3 separate regions of the Homo sapiens genome follow, and all the other regions are linked to region 2. The links come from fine-mapping of genetic effects on gene expression. A gene starts in region 2. Each other region holds a variant in brackets. All regions are shown on one strand. Distances are from middle to middle. Region 1 overlaps CHLSN (cholesin). Region 2 holds the start of CYP2W1 (cytochrome P450 family 2 subfamily W member 1). Region 3 overlaps CHLSN (cholesin).

Evidence for each region. PIP is the estimated chance that this variant, and not a neighbour inherited with it, causes the effect.
Region 1: its variant is the best candidate, but not a certain one, in a credible set for the expression of CYP2W1 in thyroid (GTEx, PIP 0.58).
Region 3: its variant is the best candidate, but not a certain one, in a credible set for the expression of CYP2W1 in testis (GTEx, PIP 0.58).

What each region holds. Positions count from the first base shown.
Region 1 is chr7:1,004,675-1,012,043 of GRCh38, reverse strand. CHLSN (cholesin) reads left to right here. Exons shown (of 5, transcript NM_001318252.2): 3 at 1,901-2,094. LOC124901570 (a long non-coding RNA gene) reads right to left here. Exons shown (of 3, transcript XR_007060184.1): 2 at 6,599-7,255; 3 at 5,973-6,256. Among named protein-coding and RNA genes, the nearest start is that of MIR339, 15 kb to the left of the region's middle. The variant C/T (reference allele first, on the strand shown) is at 3,497.
Region 2 is chr7:979,148-985,766 of GRCh38, reverse strand. It overlaps CYP2W1 (cytochrome P450 family 2 subfamily W member 1), which reads right to left and starts at 2,586. Exons shown (of 9, transcript NM_017781.3): 1 at 2,382-2,586; 2 at 1,193-1,355; 3 at 668-817; 4 at 444-601. The coding sequence starts at 2,555. It also overlaps a transcript of CHLSN not described here.
Region 3 is chr7:1,089,127-1,096,495 of GRCh38, reverse strand. The region is part of intron 2 of CHLSN (cholesin); the gene reads left to right. It overlaps GPER1 (G protein-coupled estrogen receptor 1), which reads right to left. Exons shown (of 2, transcript NM_001098201.3): 2 at 2,686-5,089. The coding sequence starts at 4,767. The coding sequence ends at 3,640. Among named protein-coding and RNA genes, the nearest start is that of GPER1, 4.7 kb to the right of the region's middle. RefSeq lists an enhancer at 294-1,003. The variant C/T (reference allele first, on the strand shown) is at 3,384.

The DNA of each region.
Region 1 (7,369 bases), 26 kb before region 2:
GCCTAGGAGGTGAGCATGGAGCTGGTTGGAGCCGGTCAGTCACCAGGCTCCCCTGGGGGTGTCCACATCCCCACCATGAAAATCTTGCTCCCCAGAGCCCTGCGTGCCTGGCCTGGTGGGTCTCAGAGCTTCCTGCCTGTGTGTGTGGGCGGCCCAGGCCTTCCCACCGGGACTCTTCAGCCTCTCTGTGCCAGGCATCTGCCAGGGACGGTGCTCCTCGTCCCCCAGGCCCTGTCTCTTGCTGCGGACCCCTGGCAGGCTCTAGGGGTGTGGCTGTGGGTGTGTTGGCGTGTGTGTATGGTGTTTGTGGGTGTCTGTGGGCGTGTGTGGGTATCTGTGGGTGTCTGGGTGTGTGGGCATCTGTGGGTGTCTCTGGGTGTGTTTGGGTATCTGGGTGTTTGTGGGTGTCTGGGTGTGTATCTGGGTGTGGGCGTGTGTGGCTGTGGGTATGTTGGGATGGTGTGTGGATGTGTTTGGGTGTGTTTGGGTATCTGGGTGTTTGTGGGTGTCTGCAGGTGTCTGGGTGTGGGTGTGTCAGGGTGTCTGGGCGTGTGAAGGTGTGTCTGGGTGTGGGTGTGTCTGGGTGTCTGTGGGCGTGTTTGGGTGTGTGGGTGTTTCTGGGTGTCTGTGGGTGTTTGGGTATCTGTGGGTGTCTGGGTGTCTGTGGATTTGTTGGATGTGTGTGGGTGTCGGTGTGTGTGGTTGTATGTGGGTGTGTGGCATGTGGGGGTGTCTGGGCGTGTGGGTGTTGGTCTATGTGTGGGTATCTGGGTGTGGGTGTGTTGGGTATGGGTGGGTGGGTATGTGGGTGTCTGTGGGTGTGGGTATGTGTCCGTGTCTGTGGGTGTGGGTGGGTGAGTGTGGGTGTATGGTGGGTGTGGGTGGGTGTGGGTCGGTGTGGGTACATGGGTGAGGGTTGGGGGCTGTGTTTGGCTGTAGGGGTGAAGTCTGTGAATGTGTGTGTCTGTGTCGGGGGGGTGGGTTGCATATATATCTGTATGTAGGGGGGCTTGCCTCACTCTTCTTTGCTCTCCCTGGGGTGGGATGCGTAGGCGTGGGCTGTGCCCGGCCTCCCTTCCTGGAAGCTCCCGGTGGGCGCTGCCTGGTTGATTCCCACGCCCCTAGCTGTTTCCCTGGGCTCCTGGCCTTGCTCGGAGTCTACACTGATGTTCTGACTTTTCCAAAAAAGACGAAGCATGTGGACAGCGGCTGGGGTCACCTCATGGTCACCCCGTGGCCCGGCTGCCCCGGCTTTGACGCTTTGCACCGTCCTCTTCTTTTGTTAATGAGGGGAGGGTGGGCAAGACGGAGGGCCTGTGCTTTCCTGGCAAGATGTGGCTGGGGACACATTGTCACAGCGGGCCCTCTCCCTCCCTTGGGGGTCTTGGCCCCCTCCCTGTCCCCAGCCTGCAGCCCAGGGGGAGCCAGGCAGCCAGTGACCTGCCAGAAAGCAGCAGGCCCCAGGCACCGTCCTCGGGATTTGGGTCGGGTCTGGGGCCAGCACCTGGCCTGTGTGATAACAGACACCAGCACACCTTCAGCCCTCCCTGGGGGCCGGCCCGGATCTTCCCACACTGTGTGGGGTGGGGCAGGACCTCACAGAGCCTCGGGAGCCGGGAGTCTGTGGGAGGTGGACCACGGGGGTGGGGAAGGGGCCTCTGGGCAGTTAATCCTGGCACCTGGCGCCTGCCCGCAGGACTGGCCATCCTCATGTGACCTGTCTGTCTCTTCGTCGTAGCACAGGCTTAGCAGGATGGTGTCGGCTGGGGCCAGACCCAGTGCTTGGGGACAGAGCTTTTGGCCACTACTGAGGTGAGGGTGGGCTCGGGAAGCCCCAGGCAGCGCACCCGTCTCTGGATACCCTCCATCCCCGAAGCCTAATGTGTTCCTTGACTTTCAGGGCGAAGCTGTGCTCAGGCCCGGGCTGGACGCAGAGCCAGAGCTGTCCCCAGAGGAGCAGAGGGTCCTGGAAAGGAAGCTGAAAAAGGAACGGAAGAAAGAGGAGAGGCAGCGTCTGCGGGAGGCAGGCCTTGTGGCCCAGCACCCGCCTGCCAGGCGCTCGGGGGCCGAACTGGCCCTGGACTACCTCTGCAGGTGAGCGGCCCTGCCCCACGCGGTTCTGTCCCGGACGTGCGTCTCAACCCCTGCCTGAGGGGGTCGAAGCCTTCACTCGCACACACTGTGTGGAAGGTTCTAGAGCAGTGAGGTATGAGCGTTCATGCCAGGCCTGTGCTGCCGCCGCTGCCCTTTCTGTCTGAATGGCCCAGAGCCTTCAGGAACTTTCAGGGGCGGCAGCAGAGCCGCTGCCCGTGCAGGGGTTGCCTGGAACTGTGCTTTTAGAAATGGGTCTGATGGTGAACCTTGCCCCAGGTGTACGTCACCACAGGAAGAATCCACGGGCCTGGGTGCTGCTTGGACGTGGGGGTGAGGAGGAGGGAACTCGTGGTGGCCTTCAGCCCTCACTCACAGTGACAGGAGGCGCCACTGCCACCCAAGAGCGGGAAGACGGGGATTGTGGGGTGCTGGGCACAGGGTGCCATCTCCCTGGCTGCCTGCGGCGTGGCTGGGTGGATGGTGCCTGCGGCGTGGCTGGGTGGACGGTGCAGGATTGCAGGGGTCAGAGGCTTTGGCGTGGGCTCCACAGCCTTGCGGGCTGTGGCCACCTCCCCGGCGCTTACCAGCACAGGCTGCTGCCCGTTCCTGTCCGTCTCCCTGAGTGCTGACTGCACCTAGAATAAGGGGTGTCACGGCGTCCACGTGGCTGGCTTCCTCAGAGACAAGAACTGGGTCCCTGTGATGAAGTCACCCTGAGGGGCAGGGTGTCCTGTGGGGGCACTGGCCCTGCCTGGGAGGACAGGCTCCAGCCGCACCTCTGTGGGAGGCCCTCGGAGAGATGACCTCCTCGGAGAGATGACCCCCAGTGTGGCTGTGCAGCTAGCGGAATGAGCAGCGGGGCCTGCGTGGATGTGCACGCTGCGTGCACGTGCACGTGTACGTGTGTGCATGTGTGTACGTGTGTGCATGTGTATGTGTGTGTGTGTGCGTGTATGTGTGTTCGCATGGGTGTGTGTGCACGCATGTGTGTTCGCATGAGGGGGTGTGCGTGTGCATGTATGCGCATGTGTATACGTGTGTTGTGTACGTGTGTGCATGTGTATACGAGTGTTGCGTACACGTGTGTGCGTGTGTTTACGTGTGTGCGTGTGTATACACGTTGTGTATATGTGCGTGTGTACATGTATACACGTGTGTACATGTGCGTGTGTGCGTGTGTGTTTATGCACGTGTGTGTTTATGTGTGGACATGTGTGTTGTGTGTGCATCCCCAGGACGGTCCTCCACCTACAGGAGAGGGGCTCTTGGCTGCCCTGCACCAGGCTCAGCGCCGGGCTCAGGAAATGGGGATGGGGGCAAGCCTCCTGTTTCTCGGAGCTGAGGCTGCCTTGGGGGTCATAGAATGAGCTCAGCCATAGCGTTGGGTGGATCCGGCTGGAAC[C/T]AGTTGAGTCATCATGGGTCTCTGCACTGGTCAGTTCTCTGGGAGGCTTAGCTTCCCTCTCCCTGAGGAACGTGGGGCTGAGGCCAGGTGCCCAGGGCTACCCCAAGAGCTCTTTCTTGCTCCAAGAACGCGCTTGGCCCAGGGGACCCAAGGTGCTGGCTGTGGTGTGAGGCTGCTGCCTCCTGCGCTTGCTCCTGCTTCTCTGCAGGCAGGGCCACAAGCCACCGCAGGGTCAGTCGCTGTAGACAGAGAGGGCTTCAGAGGCCGTTAGTGCAGCGTCTCGAGCCCAGGTGTGGGCAAGGTGTGGGCTGGGCAGAGCAGGTGGACACAGGCCTGGAAGGTGCCAGCCGCAGGAATGGACTGTAGGCTCCCTGTGGGAGGCAGAGGGCGACTGGGGCCTGCAGCTGTGCCACCTGCACCTTGCCTGTCTCCACTGGCAGGTGCCTCGGGGCGTGGCTGTTCTGGACCTGCCCTGATGCCTGGGGTGGGCGGGGTTTGTCCGCCTTCCTCCCCAGGCCTGCCAGCACCTTCCGCTGCTCTCAGTGTGGACTGTTAGACAAGGGGGACGTTGGGGACGTGGGCAGGAGAGGGGGGACCATCCGCTCCACCACGTGGCTGCCACTCCCTGGTCTTCACCCTGGAGGCGCCCTGACTCCCCTCCCATGATCACACACCCTCCGAGCACCCCACGGGAAGGTCCTGAGTGCCTGGGAGCATGCCCTGCTCCTGTCCTCAGCCTCACCCTCCTCTCCCCCTCTGGGACCTTCCCGTGGCCCCCTCATGCTACTCGCAACCCCCCAGCGGCAAGTCCTGTGCGGAGGCACTGTGTCCTGCGTGTGGGAGGAGGGGGGACTCTTACTTCTCAGAAACAAAGCAGCCCCTTCCCACAGGAGCTTCTTCCAAGGCCTGGGATCCACACACCAGGAGGCCAGCCACAGACACGGGCACCCCGGCAGGAGCTTCTCCTCTTTCCTGGGGGTCTCCAAGGGTGCCCGCAAGCCCAGCCGCATCTGGCTGCCAGATCAGAGCCCACGTGGATGTGTGGAGCCCACGGTATCCCTGGCAACTCAGGGTTTTCCAAAGAGAGGGAGCCCGGGGATTCCCACAGGGGAGTGTCCTCAGCCTGGGGGCTGCTGGGGACCACTGGCCACGCCACGGCTGGCCCACCACAGAGCCCCCAGCCCAGGGGCAGCGGTGAAGGTAGGTGCCCGAGTTGTCCTCCCCCTGCAGAGGCCCTGGACTGGGACTCAGGAAGGACATGCTGGCCGCCGTGGCCCATGGCCATCTTATGGGCTTTCCACGAGGGGTTCCTCCTGGAGGCAAAGCCATCTGCAGCCAGGTGGGCTGTGTGTGGAGGAGACCCCGGATTGTTCTGGTGAGCCCTCATGGTGGAGAGTTTCCTCTCATCTCTCTGGGAGGCACCCCACCCATTCCAGGATGCCCTGGGGGTCTCCCCTCCAGATCCCCCGAAGGCTCTGCCCCCAAGACACGTCGACCCAGCGCCCGTGGGGTCTTCATGCCCCGTCCCTAGAACCCGGGTCGCAGGCTGGGCAGCATCCCCACACGGTGACCTTGGCCTGTGACCTGTGACCATACCCTGGGCTGTTCTTGCATCTCAAGGGTTCATCTTCTCTGCAGCCTTCCTGGGGTGCTCCTGGCTTTGTGTGAAGCTGGGGCTGGTGGGAGCTGTGCAGCAGGGCTGGGGAGAGGAGGGTCCAGAGGGTGGGATGGGGGATTGTGGCCGTCATGCGCTCTTTCCCTGCGCTGTGGCCGTCGTGTGCTCTTTCCCTGCAATGTGGCCATCGTGCGCTCTTTGTCTGCGCTGTGACCGTCATGCGCTCTTTCCCTGCAGTATGACCGTCGTGCGCTCTTTCCCCGCGCTGTGGCCGTCGTGCGCTCTTTCCCCGCGCTGTGGCCGTCGTGCGCTCTTTCCCCGCGCTGTGGCCGTCGTGCGCTCTTTCCCTGCGCTGTGGCCGTCGTGCGCTCTTTCCCTGCGCTGTGGCCGTCGTGTGCTCTTTCCCTGCAGTATGGCCGTCGTGCGCTCTTTCCCTGCGCTGTGGCCGTCGTGTGCTCTTTCCCTGCGCTGTGGCCGTCGTGTGCTCTTTCCCTGCGCTGTGGCCGTCGTGCGCTCTTTCCCTGCAGTATGGCCGTCGTGCGCTCTTTCCCTGCGCTGTGGCTGTCGTGCGCTCTTTCCCTGTGCTGTGACCGTCGTGTGCTCTTTCCCTGCACTGTGGCCGTCGTGTGCTCTTTCCCTGTGCTGTGACTGTCCCCTCGTTTTCCCAGCAGGGGCCCCAGGCTTGGTCACCCAGCTCTGTTTTTCCAGCTCAGAGCCGTGTTGCTCTGGCCTTGCATAGGCGGAAGTTTGGGAGTGCTGGAAGCAGTCCCTCCACTTTCTGTGGGTCTCTGGGTTGCTGGGTCCACTGTGGTAGTTACACGAGCGAGGCACACGGCTGTCAGCGGGCAAGCCTGTTCCTCATTAAAGAGAAAAAAGAGTTTATTTATATGCTTAACGCAGGAAATTGAAGATTTACTTTCCATATAACTGAAAAAAGAAAAGAACACGCCTGCTGGGTGTTCACGTTGGGGGCAGGTGGCGAGGTGACCGCTGCCTCCCTGGTCCCTGCAGGCTTTAGCTCACCATTTTCGGGGGCCGGCCCCCTGCCTGGGTCTGCTCGAGGCGGGAGGTGGTGCCCCCACAGGAGAGAGAGGAACTGGGACCCGGGCCACACGGATCCAGCCGGGACGGGGTCCCCCACTCACCTGCGGGAGGACGAGAGCAAGTCACTCCTGCCGTGGGGCAGCCCAAGCCCACCCTCCTCAGGTCCCCATGTTGCCCAGCACAGCATGGTGTCTTAGCTTCCTTGCACCCCGTGGCCTCCGGGCCTGGAACCCTGGAATGACAGGCCAGAGCAGAGGCCAAACTGTCCCATCAGCGGAGCTTAGGGGACACTTCTTGGGTGTCCTTCCCTACCCAGGCCCACTGCCCCGCTGCCGAGGGACAGCCCAGCTCCAAGTATGGGAGGAGCGGCCAACCCATGAGACCCGGCCCCTGTCCGCGCCAGCCCCGCTCGGGCCTTCATGGGCATTGGGTCGTCAGCTCACCGCGGCTGGCAGTTCCTGGTGCAGTTACGAGCACGTGGACGCTGTGGCTGCGGGCCGGCTTCAGATGCTGTCTCAATAGAGACCCTCGCTCAGTTTTCTTTTGGAAGGGGGTTCAGCAAGAAGTCCCCGCTTTTTGTGGGTTGATTTGTTTGTTTTGAGATGGAGTCTCACTCTGTCGCCAGGCTGGAGTGCAGTGGTGCAATCTCGGCTCACTGCAACCTCTGCTTCCCAGGTTCAAGCGATTCTCCTGCCTCAGCCTCCTGAGTAGCTGAGATTACAGGCATCCGACACCACGCCCGGCTAATTTTTTGTATTTTTAGTAGAGACAGGGTTTCACCGTATTAACCAAGATGGTCTTAGTCTCCTGACCTTGTGATCCGCCCTCGGCCTCCCAAAGTGCTCAGCTTACAGGCATGAGCCACTGTTCCCAGCCGCCCCTGCTTTTTTTTAAAGCCCAGTAGGCTAGCAGGGACTCTGGTTCTCCACCCAGCTGGTGAGTACCACAGGGGAGGAGGTTCTTCTCTCTGGGACGCTCTAGGCAGCTCTGGACAGATGACCCTGCAGTGGCCGTGGCCCCCGCTATGCTGGGGACAAGGGACTTCCCTCTGACTGCTCTCTTTCCTTTTCCAAGATGGGATCTCCTGTCTGCTGCCCCACCTAGGCAGAGAGAAAGAGGATTGTGTCAGGCATCCTGTGAACTGTCTGCAGTTGCGCAGGGACCAGTCCCCAGGGTGGGTGGCAGAGGCGGCCATCACTCAGGAGGCCTCGCCC
Region 2 (6,619 bases):
TCTTTACATTTTGAAGCTAAATGAAATACACGAGTTCCAAACATCAGAGGGGTGAACTTTTGTGGTTTTGGGGCACTGTAAAGGGCGTCAGCAGGAAGGTGCCTGGACTGTCAGGGCTTGGGGGGCAGACATGGAGCCCCCCGCAATTCTGGGGAAGCCATGCCTGCCTCCCACCTCCACTCTTGAGCAGATGCATCTGTTACTGATGAGGGCGTGGGGGAGATGGGGATCCCCCATTTCCTGGAGAGCACAGGGGCTGGTTTGAGGCCACATGACCAGCTAACGTCGGATGGGTCCTGATTCAGGCCCTTGCATCTGATTCCTTTTGCAAGGTGGGAGGGCCGAGAAGCTGAGAGGGGACAGCACTGGGGCCCCCGTCCTCCTGCTGCACGCCCATCACTCCAGGCTCCACCCCACCCCAAGGATGGGAGGCAGCTCCTCACCTGCAGGCCAGGGGACCCCAAGAGGACCATGACCTCATCGATGAGACCCAGCAGGGACACAAACACGGGGTCCCGGTAGTCAAATCGGCGGCCGAAGAGGAGCGCGAAGGTGATATTGGAGGGAGCCCAGCCCAGTAGGGCCAGCGGGAAGGGCCGGCCTGCGAGGGAGACGGGCCTCAGGCACGTCCAGGCCCGGGGAGGGGCGTCCCCGGCCCCCTGCTCACCTCTGTAGCCATCCAGCTGCCCAGAGAGGCATTTCAGCTCCTGCAGAATCTTGTCAGCCACCGGCTCCCGGCCCACGCCCAGGCTGTGCAGGGCACGCACCGTGAACTGGCGGGCAGCCCTCCAGCGCGCCCCAGATGAGAAGAAGATGCCTGTAGGCAGATACAGTGCGTGGTGAGCCCAGGTTCCCACCCCAGCCAGCCCCGCCAGGCAAGTGGGCAGGAAGTGAGCAGGCTGACAGGGCAGCGAGACTGGCTGGGCCCTCACCCCCATCCCCACTCCCGTCCCCCTGGGCTGGCCCTGGCCCCTCTTGACTTGGGATGAAAAGAACCCCGCTTGCTGGTTCTGAGCACCTGACCTGCTGTGTGGACACCTGGCCCTTCTCAGCACCAGCCCGGAGGCCCAGCTCCTGCCTGCTCTTCCCCAGGCCACCCTGGGAGCCTCTCCCGCTGCTGGAGCCCCCACCCCTCCTGGGGTCCAGGTGCCCCCACACCCAGTAGGCCCCGTAGCGCCGGCCACACACCGACCTCCACCTCGCTGGATGAGCTGGAAGATGGCGATGGGAGGCCGGTCGGCCAGCTCCTGCCCGGGGCCCGCCAGCGCCTCTTTGACCGCCTCGAACCCCGTCAGCACCACCGTCTTCTGGCGCCCCAGGTGCACGGTGAACACCGGCCCGTAGCGTTCTGAGAGCTGGCAGGGATGGCGGGGGTCACCCGGGCAGCCCTCACCCACAAGACCCCCCTTAGGTCCCCTCAGGCCGGGCCTGTGCTGGGTAGGGGTGGGGACAGAGGGAAAATGGGGGCAGGTGGAGGGGGCACGCCTAGATGCCATAAAGCCAGTGGTGCAGGGTGGAGGGGGCAGCGCCCAGCCTGGAGCCCACAGAGCCCTCTCGCCATCTGGTGCTTGGCATGGCTGTTGTGGGATTTTCTTTTTAGCCAAAATTCCTGGGGGGCTCAAGCCCTGAGTCCAGGCGGCAAGGTCGGGGGCTGGCTGTCTGCTGGGGTGGCACATTCTGAAAGGCCAGAGTCTGCACAGAGTGAGGGCCTGACAGGCTCGGCCCCCAGAGACCCTGATCCGTCTTCGGCTACAGCCCGGCCAGCAGCACCCCAGCCCGCAGTTGGGGGCAGCCGGAGGCAGGGCCCGGGCCTGACTGGTCAGCCCTGTCCCACTGACCCTGCCTGCCTGAGCGAGGACAGAGCGACAGTGCTAGTCAGGCTGCCCCGTGCCGTGTCCCCGTACCCTCTGTCCTCAGCATCCCTGCCCAGGAGGCACAGGTCCTCTTCCCATTTCACAGATGAGGAAACAGAGGCTCAAAAGTGGGAAGTGTTTGCTGTTGAACACCTGAGGGCCGAGGGGGGCTGAGCAGGCAGCCGACAGGCCCAGGCCCTCCTCCCCTCTGCTGTCCCTAAGCCTGGCCTCCTGCGGGCTCTCAGCAGACGCCACCGCCTCCAGGGAGCCCTCCAGACTCCTGCTCCCGCGCCGGGCCCTGGGTGGCACCTCCAGGGCTTCTTCGTACTCAGTGTGTCTGCTTCCCTGTGGGACGGGGTGGCTTTCCCCTCCCAAAAGCAGGGTGGGCCCTCCGGCCTCCTGCGTGCCCCGCTGGGCCCGGCACCATGTGGGAACAGGCAGTGGAAACCGGGCTGGGCTTCCCCAGGAGGGGGGCCAGGACACGGCAGCTGTCCAAGCGGCAAGAGCTGCCCGGGCTCCCTGACTTACCTCCATCAGGGACCGGTCCTGTTGCGACAGACGCAGCAAGTGCAGGTTCCCGACGAGCGGCAGCGGGCGAGGCCCCGGGGGCCACCGGGCAGCTGGGGAGGGGTCTTGGGCGCAGGCGCAGAGCAGCCCCCAGAGCCCCAGGAGGCCCAGGAACAGCAAGAGCAGCAGGGCCATGAGGACGTGGCTGGTGAGGCTCCACTCCCCTCCTGGGCCCCGTCCCCCCCGCACCCTTATAGGCCTCCGCGGGAGGGCGTGCCCGCACCCCACCCACCCCACCACCCCGAGAATGTGGAACGAGCAGTTTGCAGGGCAGCCCCCAGCGGATGGCTTAAAGCTGCAGGCCTGCGTGGAATGTGGGGCTGAGGCCCTGGTGGGGCCGGGGAGGGGAGGGCAGGACGGGGGCCCTCTGGGGTCAGGCATCCATGTCTCCTGGCCAGAGAGAAGGATGTGGCACGTGGACTGTTCTGCCCCTGGTTCTGCTGAACCTGCCAGTCCAGGCCCCTTGGCCTTGGCCACCCCTCAGAACTGGGATTCACAGGGCTTTGGGGCCGAGGCCCTGGCTTGGAGGGGAGCCCCCTGCCTTTCACAGGCTCTGAGTGGGACCCTGTGGAGCTCAGGGTTTGCAGGCCTCTCCCAAACCCCATCCGTGTGCACCCAGCTCTTCTCTGATCAGCTCCCCACGGGGCAAGGGACAGGAGTGAGACCTCAGGGAGGCCCATGAGGGGACTCAAATCCCACAGTCCTCACAGGCCACCACCTGCATCTCCCTGAGGGTGTTCTCGCCCCAGGTAGCAGCCTGCTCCTTTTCGAGGGCTGCCGCCCGGGCAGGGGATGCAACCCTCTGAGCTAGGACAGGAACATGGAAGGGCTGCCGGGTGGCAGGTGGCGGGGTTTACGAGCCCTGTCCATCTGTCTCCTAAACCGCTGTGAGGGGTGGGAGGGCTGCTGGCAGCAGAAGCGGCCGGGCCTGCTTTGCACAGCCTGCCCTGACATGAGGCAGCTGGAGCTGGTGCCAGCAGGCGGGACCCTCCCCACAGCCTGTCTCTGGGGCGTTGCCCATGCCCTGTACGAACCGCAGAGCCGAGGCAGCCTGAGGCCCTCACCCCTCCCGGGTTGGTCCCCCTTGATTAGCTGGGAGGGAAAGCCCCAGGCACAGTTGCACGCCTCCTGTGGTGGGGAGCTCACTACCTCTATCCTGCTGTACAGCCTCAGGGCCAGGGCTGGGCGGCTGCGGCGGGGAGGGAGTGCCTCATACCAGGGCCACTACTGGGTAGGCTGGGGGTCCTACCTGCCTAGCAAAGCTTACTTAATTAATTCAGGGAATACTTTTGATTTTTGTGTGTTTTGTTTTTGAGACAGGGTCTTGCTCTGTTGCCCAGGCTGGATTACCGTGCTGTGAGTACAGGCTCACTGCAGCCTCCACCTCCGGGGCTCAAGCCATCCTCCCACCTCAGCCTCCCAAATAGCTGGGACTACAGGCATGCACCACCCAGCCTAGCTAACTTTATTTATTTATTTATGTAGAAATGGAGGTCCTGCTACGTTGCTCAGGCTGGTCTCACACTCCTGGGTTCAAGCAATCCTCCTGCCTCGACCTCCCAAAGTGTTGGGATTGCAGGTGTAAGCCACTGCACCTGGCCTAATTTTTTAAGTTTTGGGTTTTTGTTGTTTTTGAGACGGAATCTCACTCTGTTGCCAGGCTGGACTACAATGGCGTGATCTCGGCTCACTGCAACCTCCGCCTCCCGGGTTGGAGCGATTCTCCTGCCTCAGCCTCCCGAGTAGCTGGGATTACAGGCACATGCCACCACACCTGGCTACTTTTTGTATCTTTAGTAGAGACGGGGTTTCACCATGTTGGCCAGGACAGTCTCGATCTCTTGACCTCATCATGATCCGCCCGCCTCGGCCTCCCAAAGTGCTGGGAATTTTGTAAGTTTCTTTTAGAGACGGAGTCTAGAGGCTGGTCTTCAACTCCTCCTGGGCTCAAGCGATCCTACTGTGGCCGCCTCCAAAAGCGCTGGGATTACTAGCATGAGCCAATGCCGGGCCGGCCTCTTTTTCTTTTCTTTTCTTTTTTTTTTTTTTTGAGATGGAGTCTCACTCTCGTCATCCAGGCTAGAGTGCAGTGGCATGATCTTGGCTCACTGCAACCTCCATCGCCCGTGTTCAAGTGATCCTCCTGCCTCAGCCTCCCGGGTAGCTGGGATTACAGGCATATGCAACCACACTCAGCTAATTTTTGTATTTTTAGTAGAGATGGGGTTTTGCCATGTTGGCCAGGCTGATCTCGAGCTCCTGACCTCAAGTGATCCACCTGCCTTGGCCTCCCAAAGCACTGGGATTACAGGCGTGAGCCACAGTGCCCAGCCCTCTTTTAAAAGTAACTCGTTGGCCAGGCGCAGTGGCTTATGCCTGTAATCCCAGCACTTTGGGAGGCTGAGGTGGGCGGATCACGAGGTCAGGAGATGGAGATCGAGACCATCCTGGCTAACACGGCAAAACCCCATCTCTACTAAAAATACAAAAAATTAGCCGGGCGTGATAGCGGGCGCCTGTAGTCCCAGCTACTCAGGAGGCTGAGGCAGGAGAATGGCGTGAACCCGGGAGGCGGAGCTTGCAGTGAGCTGAGATGGCACCACTGCACTCCAGCCTGGGCAACAGAGTGAGACTCCATCTCAAAAAAAAAAAAAAAAAAAAAGTAACTGTTACTGGGGAATTAACAGTACTCCTCTAACGGCTGCCTGTACGTGTTGCTTGCTCTGGGGGGCATGGCCGGGTGTGCATATTTGCATATTTACATTGTTTCCAATCTTAGGCTGTCACAGAACATCCTGATAAAAATATCTGTGTGCATACTTGCAAGGATGGGCACAGTTGCAAGGATATCTTAAAATAAATTCCTAGAAACCAGGTGGCTGAGCCAAGGCATTGTTGCTTTCTGATGTCCGGTGGACCTCCAGCGCCCTGCAGAGACGTGTGCCAACTGCAGCCTGGCTGCTCAAGTGGAACTTGGGACTGTTCTGATCAGACCTGATTGGTCCAGGCCTGCCAGACAGATACTCAGGCCTGAGCCATCTCTGTGACCAGGAGGAATGCAGTGCTGTGATTGGCTGGCTCAGGTCCTGCCTGCCCCTGACATCAGAGGCAGGGTGGGTGAGGTGGGTGGGTAGGTGGGCTCCCCCGGAGGGGCTGGAGTCAGACAGACCTGGTTCCAAACTCAGGCCCGCACCTGTCGGCTGTGGCAGATGGCGGCTTCCAGAGATGGCCGCACAGATTCTCCCAACCACACTGTCTTTGCGTAACGTAACACTGCGCTTCTCCCTCCACAGGAGGGCTTGTGGTCTTCCCCCTTTGTGACACAAAGTAGCAGAGGCCAGAAGCCGTGTTTGCTCATTCCACCAGTGGAGTTTCACGGGACGCTTTTGCAGTGTACTAGAGATCCACCAGACATCAAAAAGGAACTGTCCCTTGGCTCAGTGACCCGGTTTCCAGAAATTTAGTTTAAGGCATCCTTGCAACTGTGCGGAAAAAAGTGTGCGCCCTGCCTCAGTGACTGGGCGCGCCCCCTGGAAGAATGTCCCAGAGACTGAGCAGGCATGGCGCAGGTGCCCACGGCTCTTGCTTGAATCCCTGCATTTTTTTTTTTTTGAGACGGAGTTTCCCTCTCTGTTGCCCAGGCTGGAGTTCACTGCAACCTCCGCCTCCCAGGTTCAAGCGATTCTCCTGCCTCAGCCTCCCGAGTAGCTGGGACTACAGGCACTCACCACCACGCCCGGCTAATTTTTGTATTTTTAGTAGAGACGGGGTTTCACCATGTTGGCCAGGCTGGTCTTGAACTCCTAACCTCAGATGATCCGCCCACCGTGGCCACCCAAAGTGCTGGGATTATAGGTGTGAGCCACCACACCCGGCCAAATCACTGCGTTTTTTAAAAAGATAAGGTCAACGATCCTAGCCCTTGTCTCCTCCTGCACATAAGATAACGTCTGACAGGATCAGTGGCTGTAATCTATGACGAGATGGACTCTTGCACCGAAACTTTGACGATCGCATTTGGCTCTAAGGTACCCCCTGAGCAGGTGCAGAGCCTCCGCCACCCGTTGATAAGCTGAGGCCCGAAACATTGCTTTGGAGCAGTCGAACTGAAACTCTGAAACACCCTCCCGGATTGCAATGCTCAATAGGAATCTGAATAAAACTAACTTTACTTCTTCGAAAGCAAAATTTTCCTTTAG
Region 3 (7,369 bases), 110 kb before region 2:
ACCCACGGAGTCCCTGCCCGGCCTGCTGGTCTCTGTCCTACAGCTCCCAGCTCTGGGATCTCAGGGTCAGGGACTCCAGGGCCCAGGGTCCAAGGCTGGCTCTACTGCGTGGGGACCTCAGTGTTGCACCTGCCCTTACCGCAGCCCGGTGGCTTGGCTGCTGGGTGCCTGTCGCTCGTGTGACTGGCCTCAGAGCAGTGCCGCCGCCAGCTTCACAGGTCAAGAGTCTGCTTCCGGCGGCTAGATGGCGGCGTGTCAGCTCTGTCTGCCCAGAGCCTTGGGCAAGTCCCCAGAAGAGACCTGGCGGAGAGGAGCGGCGTAGTGGGGCGGCGTGACGCTTCCACGCACTCAACAGCGGTGTCTGGTGCGGGCAGGATGGAAGCCGCGTCTGTGGCAGGGAGGGAAGGACGCCACAGTCAGCACTGTTCCCTGTGGTGGGTTGACGTGGAGGAATGAGTTGAGTCCCGTCCCTGATTGATGCCTGGGGCTCTGTTCAGACGCAGTTCCCACCCAGATCACCTTAAGGGAGCCCTCCCCGCTGCCGCTGCTGCCGTCCCTGCACTTCCCGCACAGCAGGCTTTAGAGGAGGTTGGGCTGGTGACCTTGGGTGACCCCTCGATGCCCATGGCCCCCAGCCCTGTATGATTTCTGCATGGCGTGCTTTTGCCAGTTAGACGCCAGGGGTTGCCGAGTGCTACAGAGCTTGTGGGCTTTGAGCCAGGAGAGCGTGGCTGAATTCCTGGCTGTGTCACCCACCATTTAAGGCTTCGAGCAGTGACTGACCCTTCTAGTGCCTCCTTGGTGTGGTGGGGACAGCGCTTACCCCACGGGGCTGCTGTGAGGGGTGGGGACCAGACCACGTTCCGTGTGGGTCTCCCCACGTCAGCTCGTCAGAACTGGAAGTCAGAAATGCTGGGTCTCTCGTCTGCGTATTTTAAAGCGTCTGCCCTTGCCCCTGTTGAAGCTATGTGAACGGGACTGTGTGTGGGGAATGCCTGACAGGTAGTTGGGTGCCTGGTGGTAGAGCACCCACCCCGCCTGCTTTCTGGGACTTGGATGGTTTTTCCCCATCAGCAACACTGAGGTCAAAAGGGGAGCTTCATTGAAGCATGCATCTTGTAAAGAGAGTGCCCGGGTGTCGGGGAGGGGGGTTTGGGGGCTGCTGCGTGACTGTCCTGGGTATTGTTGTAAAGACAGCGCCCAGGTGTGGGGGGTGGGGGTTTGGGGGGCTGCTGCCTGGCTGTCCTGGGCATTGAGCGAGTACATCCCTGGGGAGGAGGGCAAGTCTCGTCCCTGGGGCCTGGAAGGAGCTCCAGAGCACGGATGTCAGTGTGATGGCCATGTCCTTTTAGCTGGGGTGACTTGCAGGGCAGGCTCTGGAAGGGCAGAGGGAGGGGTGCGCCGGGCCTGAGTCGTGGCTCAAGCCACGCACGGTGTTCTGCAGGACTGTGCCACACGTGAGCCTGGCTTCTGGCTTGGCCACCCCACAGCAATCTCCACTTCCACGAGACCTGTTAGTGTGTGGGAGCCGCCCTGTTCCCAGGCTTCCCGGTGAGCCATTTATGAGGAAAGCAATCCTGATAGAAGTGGGCACAGAGGCCGCTCCTGCAGGCCACGGTCTGGGCAGCGCTCTGTTCCTGAGGAGCCCAGCACCACGGTGCTGGGGTCATGGAGAATACAGGCCCCACCTGCCTGAGAGACCCAGGCTTCCCACACCCACCGACACACAGCTTCATGTCCCACAGACGGGAGGAGAGAGGTTTTACTGGGCTCACTGTGGTTGTGTTATGTCCCACAGACAGGAGGAGAGAGAGTTTCCTGGGCTCATGTGTGGTTATGTTATGTCCCATGGACGGGAGGAGAGAGTTTCCTGGACTCACTGTGGTTGTGTTATGTCCCACAGACAGGAGGAGAGAGTTTCCTGGACTCAACATGGCTGCGTTCAGTCTTCATTGTGCCGCACCCGTTCACCCCCTGCTCTTTTGCAGATGTTTTCTTTAATTGGCCTTTTCCTTTCAATATGTTTGCATATCAAACTTTATGTTATCACAAATAAAAAACAGTATCATAGCTTTTAAACAGACCAGAACCGCAAACACAGGAAAAGTGAGGGGGTAGTACAGGTGGCTAGTTCCCTTCACCCACACATCCCGACGCCCTGCGCAGGTTTCTGTGAAGACGGAGAAGCAGGCACTGGTTCAGGTGCACCTTGTTAACATCAGGGACAGCTGCTGCCAGGTGGGTGAGGCGGGAAAGGAGGGGAGCAGCGCCAGGATCCAGCCCCGGTGATGGGAGAAGGAGCAGGAACCTTCCCGGCCGGCTGCTCCAGGAGCGCTTGGGTGCCGCAGAGCTCTTGGGCCTCGCACGCGGCCGAGAGCCTTCTAGAAAGGCAGCTTAGGTCGCACAGGCTGCTGGACAAGGCTGAGCCCTGCCTCCTACATTCATGGGAAGCTTGTCATGGCACCCAAGCATGACACAGAAGTGCCCCCACGGCATTTTGGACAGCCTGGAAATGCCAGGTTAGGTCCGGCTGGCCGGACTCAGAGGCTGGCCTTGTGAGAGTTTTCAGGGTGGCAGGGGAGGGCTGTGTTTTCTGTGAGGGGGGAGGGATTCTCCCGAGTGCCCCATGCCCACCCCACGTCCCACCCCACTTGGCAGACCCCCAAGACAGAGCCTCCGGAAGGATCCGCACATGACAGGTTTATTGACAAAGGCTGAACGTCACCAGCCTCATCAGCTTTTCTTACATTTTATGGGAAGGTTTTTACATCATCACCGCAGTTGTCCCCAGCTGTTATTTCTGTAGAAACAAATTCGTCAGCCACAGGTGCTGGAGTATTTCATTGTCCTGGCACCCGACTAACCCACACGGCAGCTCGCACGGTCCCAGTCCACATGAGTGCAATTGCCATGTTGATGTCAACAAGCAGTGACTGAACCACCCCGGAGCAGACGGCGGGCGCTCCACAGAGGGGCCTTCCTGCTGCTCCGGGCCGAGCGCTGCTGCTCCTCGTGGGCCTGGTGAGGCCGCACAGCGCCATTGCTGCCATCCTGGAAGATGGAGGACGCTCAGGCGTGCACCAGAGCAGCATGTTTTCCTTCTCCTCTTTAACTCGGCGGTGCGCTAGCTAGCTCAGACCGTGGGCACAGAGGACACACCGCGACGTCCAGCTCAGACCCACCAGCACCTTGCATCTCCAGCGTCAGTTCCCCCACGGTGGCAGATTTGCTTTAGGGTTCCTGTGTAACTGAGGCGCTTCACCCACAGTGGCCTCTCCGTGTGGCTTTCCTGGTCGACGGTGTCAGAAATGTTTCCTGCAGCGGCAGGCAGGTGCAGCGGCAGGCAGGGTTGGCGGGGAGGAGCTGGGTGACAGGCTGGTCAC[C/T]GCTGGCCTTTGGACCCTGCGGGGCGAGCGCTTTGGGATTGTAGCAATTCTGTGTGAGGAGTGCAAGGTGACCAGTCGTGAGGTTTCCTAAGCAGCCCCAGGGTGACCAGGCAAGCGTGACCCTCGCGAGGCCCCGAGGAGCCAGAAGCCACATCTGACCGCAGTTTAGAGACATGACGTGGCCGTGCCTTGTGTCCACCCAGGTGTGTGCAGCTCCCGAGTCACACCCTGGCTGGGCCTATGCGGCCAAGGCTGTCTACACGGCACTGCTGAACCTCACATCCGACTGCTCGGTGCTGTCTGGAATGACGGCCTTCAGGGCAGCGTGACAGAAGCGGTTCAGGGCCGGCAAATTTGTTTTCTGCTCAATGTACAGCCTCAGCTTGTCCCTGAAGGTCTCCCCGAGAAAGCTGTAGATGAGGGGGTTTAGGCAGCTGTTGGAGAAGGCGGCGAGGTTGACAATGTGGCCCGTGAGGGGGTGGGCATGGCGGAAAGACTGCTTGCAGGGAGCGGCCCCAGGCTGCGTCCGCTGCAGGAGGTGCACGCTGATGAAGACGTTCTCCGGCAGCCAGCAGACGAAGAAGACCAGCACCACCGCGAGGATCATGCGGAGCGCCTTCTGCCGCCGGGGCCGCAGCCCACGGTGCCGGTGCGCCCTGACCAGCACCCGGACAATGAGGGAGTAGCACAGGCCGATGATGGCGAAGGGCACGATGAAGCCCAGCGTGACCTCGAGCCACTGCACCTCCCGGACATCCGCGAAACAGAAGCAGGCCTCGTCGGTGTGCTGCAGGTGCACGGCGGTGAAGGGCACCAGCGTGGCTGACACGGATGCCATCCAGATGAGGCCACAGCTCAGCCGGGCGTGGTGCTTGGTGCGGAACAGGCTGCAGCGCATGGCCCTGGCCAGGGCGATGTAGCGGTCGAAGCTCATCCAGGTGAGGAAGAAGACGCTGCTGTACATGTTGACCTGCAGGAAGAGCGACATGAAGGTGCACAGGACGGCGATGTCGTAGTACCGCTCGTGCAGGTTGAACACCTCAATGAGGGAGTCGGCCACCAGGATGAGGTCCGCCACCGCCAGGTTGATGAAGTACAGGTCGGGGATGGTCATCTTCTCGCGGAAGCTGATGTTCACCACCAGGATCAGGATGTTGCCCACAAAGCCGATGGGGAAGAGGAAGATGGTGTAGAGGCACGAGAGGAACAGGCCGATCACGTACTGCTGGTGCTCCGAGAGCTCACCTGTCCCATTGGCCAGGGCGGTGCCCAGGAGCGGGTGGGACAGGTTGAGCTCGGGGGAGGTGGTGTTGGGGGCCGCAGGCTGCGCGGTGCCTGGGTACATCTCCAGGCCCACGCCCCGGGCTTGGGAAGTCACATCCATGTCTCTGCACCGTGCAGCTTTCAAGATTTGCCGAAAGGCTCCCAGAGCTCTGTTTTAAATGGTGAATCCATCTTTAGAAAGAAGCGTGATTCTCCTTGAAGTGAGCCTGGCATTTGTCAGACAGGAAACTCCCCAGGAGGAGCACCTGTGGTGGTTTGGGTTGGGTTTGTTAACTGCAGAGAGTGGGAAGAACAGATGCTCCTCACACCGGCATGGTGCATCCGTGGAGGCGAGGGCCCTCCGCGTGCTCGTCCGGCGGGCGTCCCTGCGGGTGTCGGCCACCGTGCACAGTCCCGCGTGGAGCTGCTCACTCTCTGGGTACCTGGAGAAGCAACAGGAGAGGATGAAGTCTCATCGAGTGGCCCCAGCTTTGGGACAAGGCCTGGCTCCCCTGGCCGGGTGTCTGTAGAGTCTGGGTGTGTCAGGAGCACTGGGGAGGGCCAGAACCTCAGCTTTATGAGCTCGGGAGGTGGCTGTGGTTGAGCTGAGGTGGAAGAGTCGCCTGTGGGAAGTACATGGCCTTCTTTCCTGCAGGTCCCACGGCTGCTCAGCTGCAGCTGGAGGCTGGACGTGAGTCACTCCCACAGGCAGGGGTGTTTTTCCCTTTATAGCCACAGAGCAGGCCCAGGAAGCAATGAAGGTATGGGCACGGCCGCCCCAGGACAACGGCATTTGTGAGGAGAGGGGAAAATGCATTTCAGCAGCTGATGGAGAAGTAAGATAGGAAGGGAAAGCCAGTGTTTCTGAGAGAGAGAGAGTGGGTCCAGAAAGCTGGACATCAGAGCAGAATCTTCTCTTACGATAAAACAGAAGTTCAGCGGTTTCCTCATGCTAGTTCTGTGTTCTAGGTACCAAAAATAAACTTATTTTCGTAATATAGAGTGAAAGGGGTCATTGTTTTGGGAAATAATATGTACGTTTTTATTTCATGTTTTAACAAATTATTGTAAAACCTAATATGTTTTTGCAATGCTGTTTGTAACCTAGGAAGAAACTCCAGGGAGAGAGTCCCTCCCGAGCTTATCCTCTGCAGAGAGGGAGAAGTGGGCTGTCCGCCCACGGCGGTGCCCGGGCTCTGCCGCCAGTGGGGAGGGTCCCGTCACCCACCCCGTGTCACCCTGGCTCTGCCGCCAGTGGAGAGGTCCCGTCACCCGCCCCGTGTCACCCCGGCTCTGCCGCCAGTGGGTAGGGTCCCATCACCTGCCCTGTGTCACCCCGGCTCTGCCGCCAGTGGGGAGGGTCCCATCACCCACCCCGTGTCACCCTGGCCCTGCTGCGAGTGGGGAGGTCCTGTCACCTGCCCCGTGTCACCCCGGCTCTGCCGCCAGTGGGGAGGGTCCCGTCACCTGCCCCGTGTCACTGTGCTCCTGGAAGTTCTCTATGCAGCGGGCCACGGGGGTCTCAGCCTGCAGACACTGGCAGTCTCTGGGGATGCGGGGGCAGTCACAGGGGGGTGCTGGTGGGGCCAGGGCTGCCGCTCAGCTCCCTACAGTGCCTAGGACAGGTGCCCAAGCCCAGCAGAGAATTACCTGGCCCAGATGGTGCTGGTGCCCTGGAGTAAACTAACACTTCAAAATGGGTTTGAGTTGTTTTTCCTTTGGGAATTTTCATTTTACCTTTTGAAATCATTAGGAGTTATTGTTTTGAATGTTTTTTTTTTTTGGTCACCCAGGTTGGAGTGCAGTGGCACAATCTCGGCTCACTGCAACTGCCGCCTCCCGGGTTAGAGTGGTTCTCCTGCCTCAGCCTCCTGAGTATCTGGGATTATAGGTGTGCACCACCACGCCTGGCTAATGTTTTATATTTTTAGTAGAGATGGGGTTTTACCATGTTGCCCAGGCTTGTATCGAACTTCTGACCTGTAGTGATCTGCCCGCCTTGGCCTCCCACGGTGCTGGGATTACAGGTGTGATCCACCGCGCCGGGCCAGGGGTTATTGTTTTGAAGTGCTGCAAAACCAGACTAGAGATTTGTTGACCTATTGCTTGAAAATACTTACTTAAAAAAAAAAAAAAAAAAAAGGCTGGCCTATAATCCCAGCACTTCAGGAAGATGAGGTGGGAGGATTGCTCAAGTTCAGGAGTTCGAGACCAGCCTGGGTAACATGGCGAAACCCTGTCTCTACTAAAAAAAGACAAAAAAAGTAGCTGGGCATAGTGGTGTGCGCCTGTAGTCCCAGCTACTCGGGAGGCTGAGGCAGGAGGATCGCCTGAGCCTGGCAGGTAGAGGTTGCAGTGAGCCAAGATCACACCACTGCACTCGAGCCTCAGCCGAGATCACACCACTGCACTCGAGCCTCAGCCGAGATCACACCACTGCACTCGAGCCTGAGCTACTGCAGTGAGGCCCCATCTCAAAAACAGGCGGGTGGGGAAGACAAGATGAATCACTGCCTCTGTGTCAGTTATTCTAAAAGTACTGAATAACCTTCACTTAGCTGGGGCTGGTGAATTTGATTTTGGTTATTTTGCACTCTTGATTCATCTTTAGTAGATAATACCATTGAACAGCATAAATGCCTCTGCTCTCAGGCTCTGTCGGGAAGGTTGAAAGACTCCGCATTTCGCCTCTGTATTTAATTTCTTAAAAACGGCACAGAGGA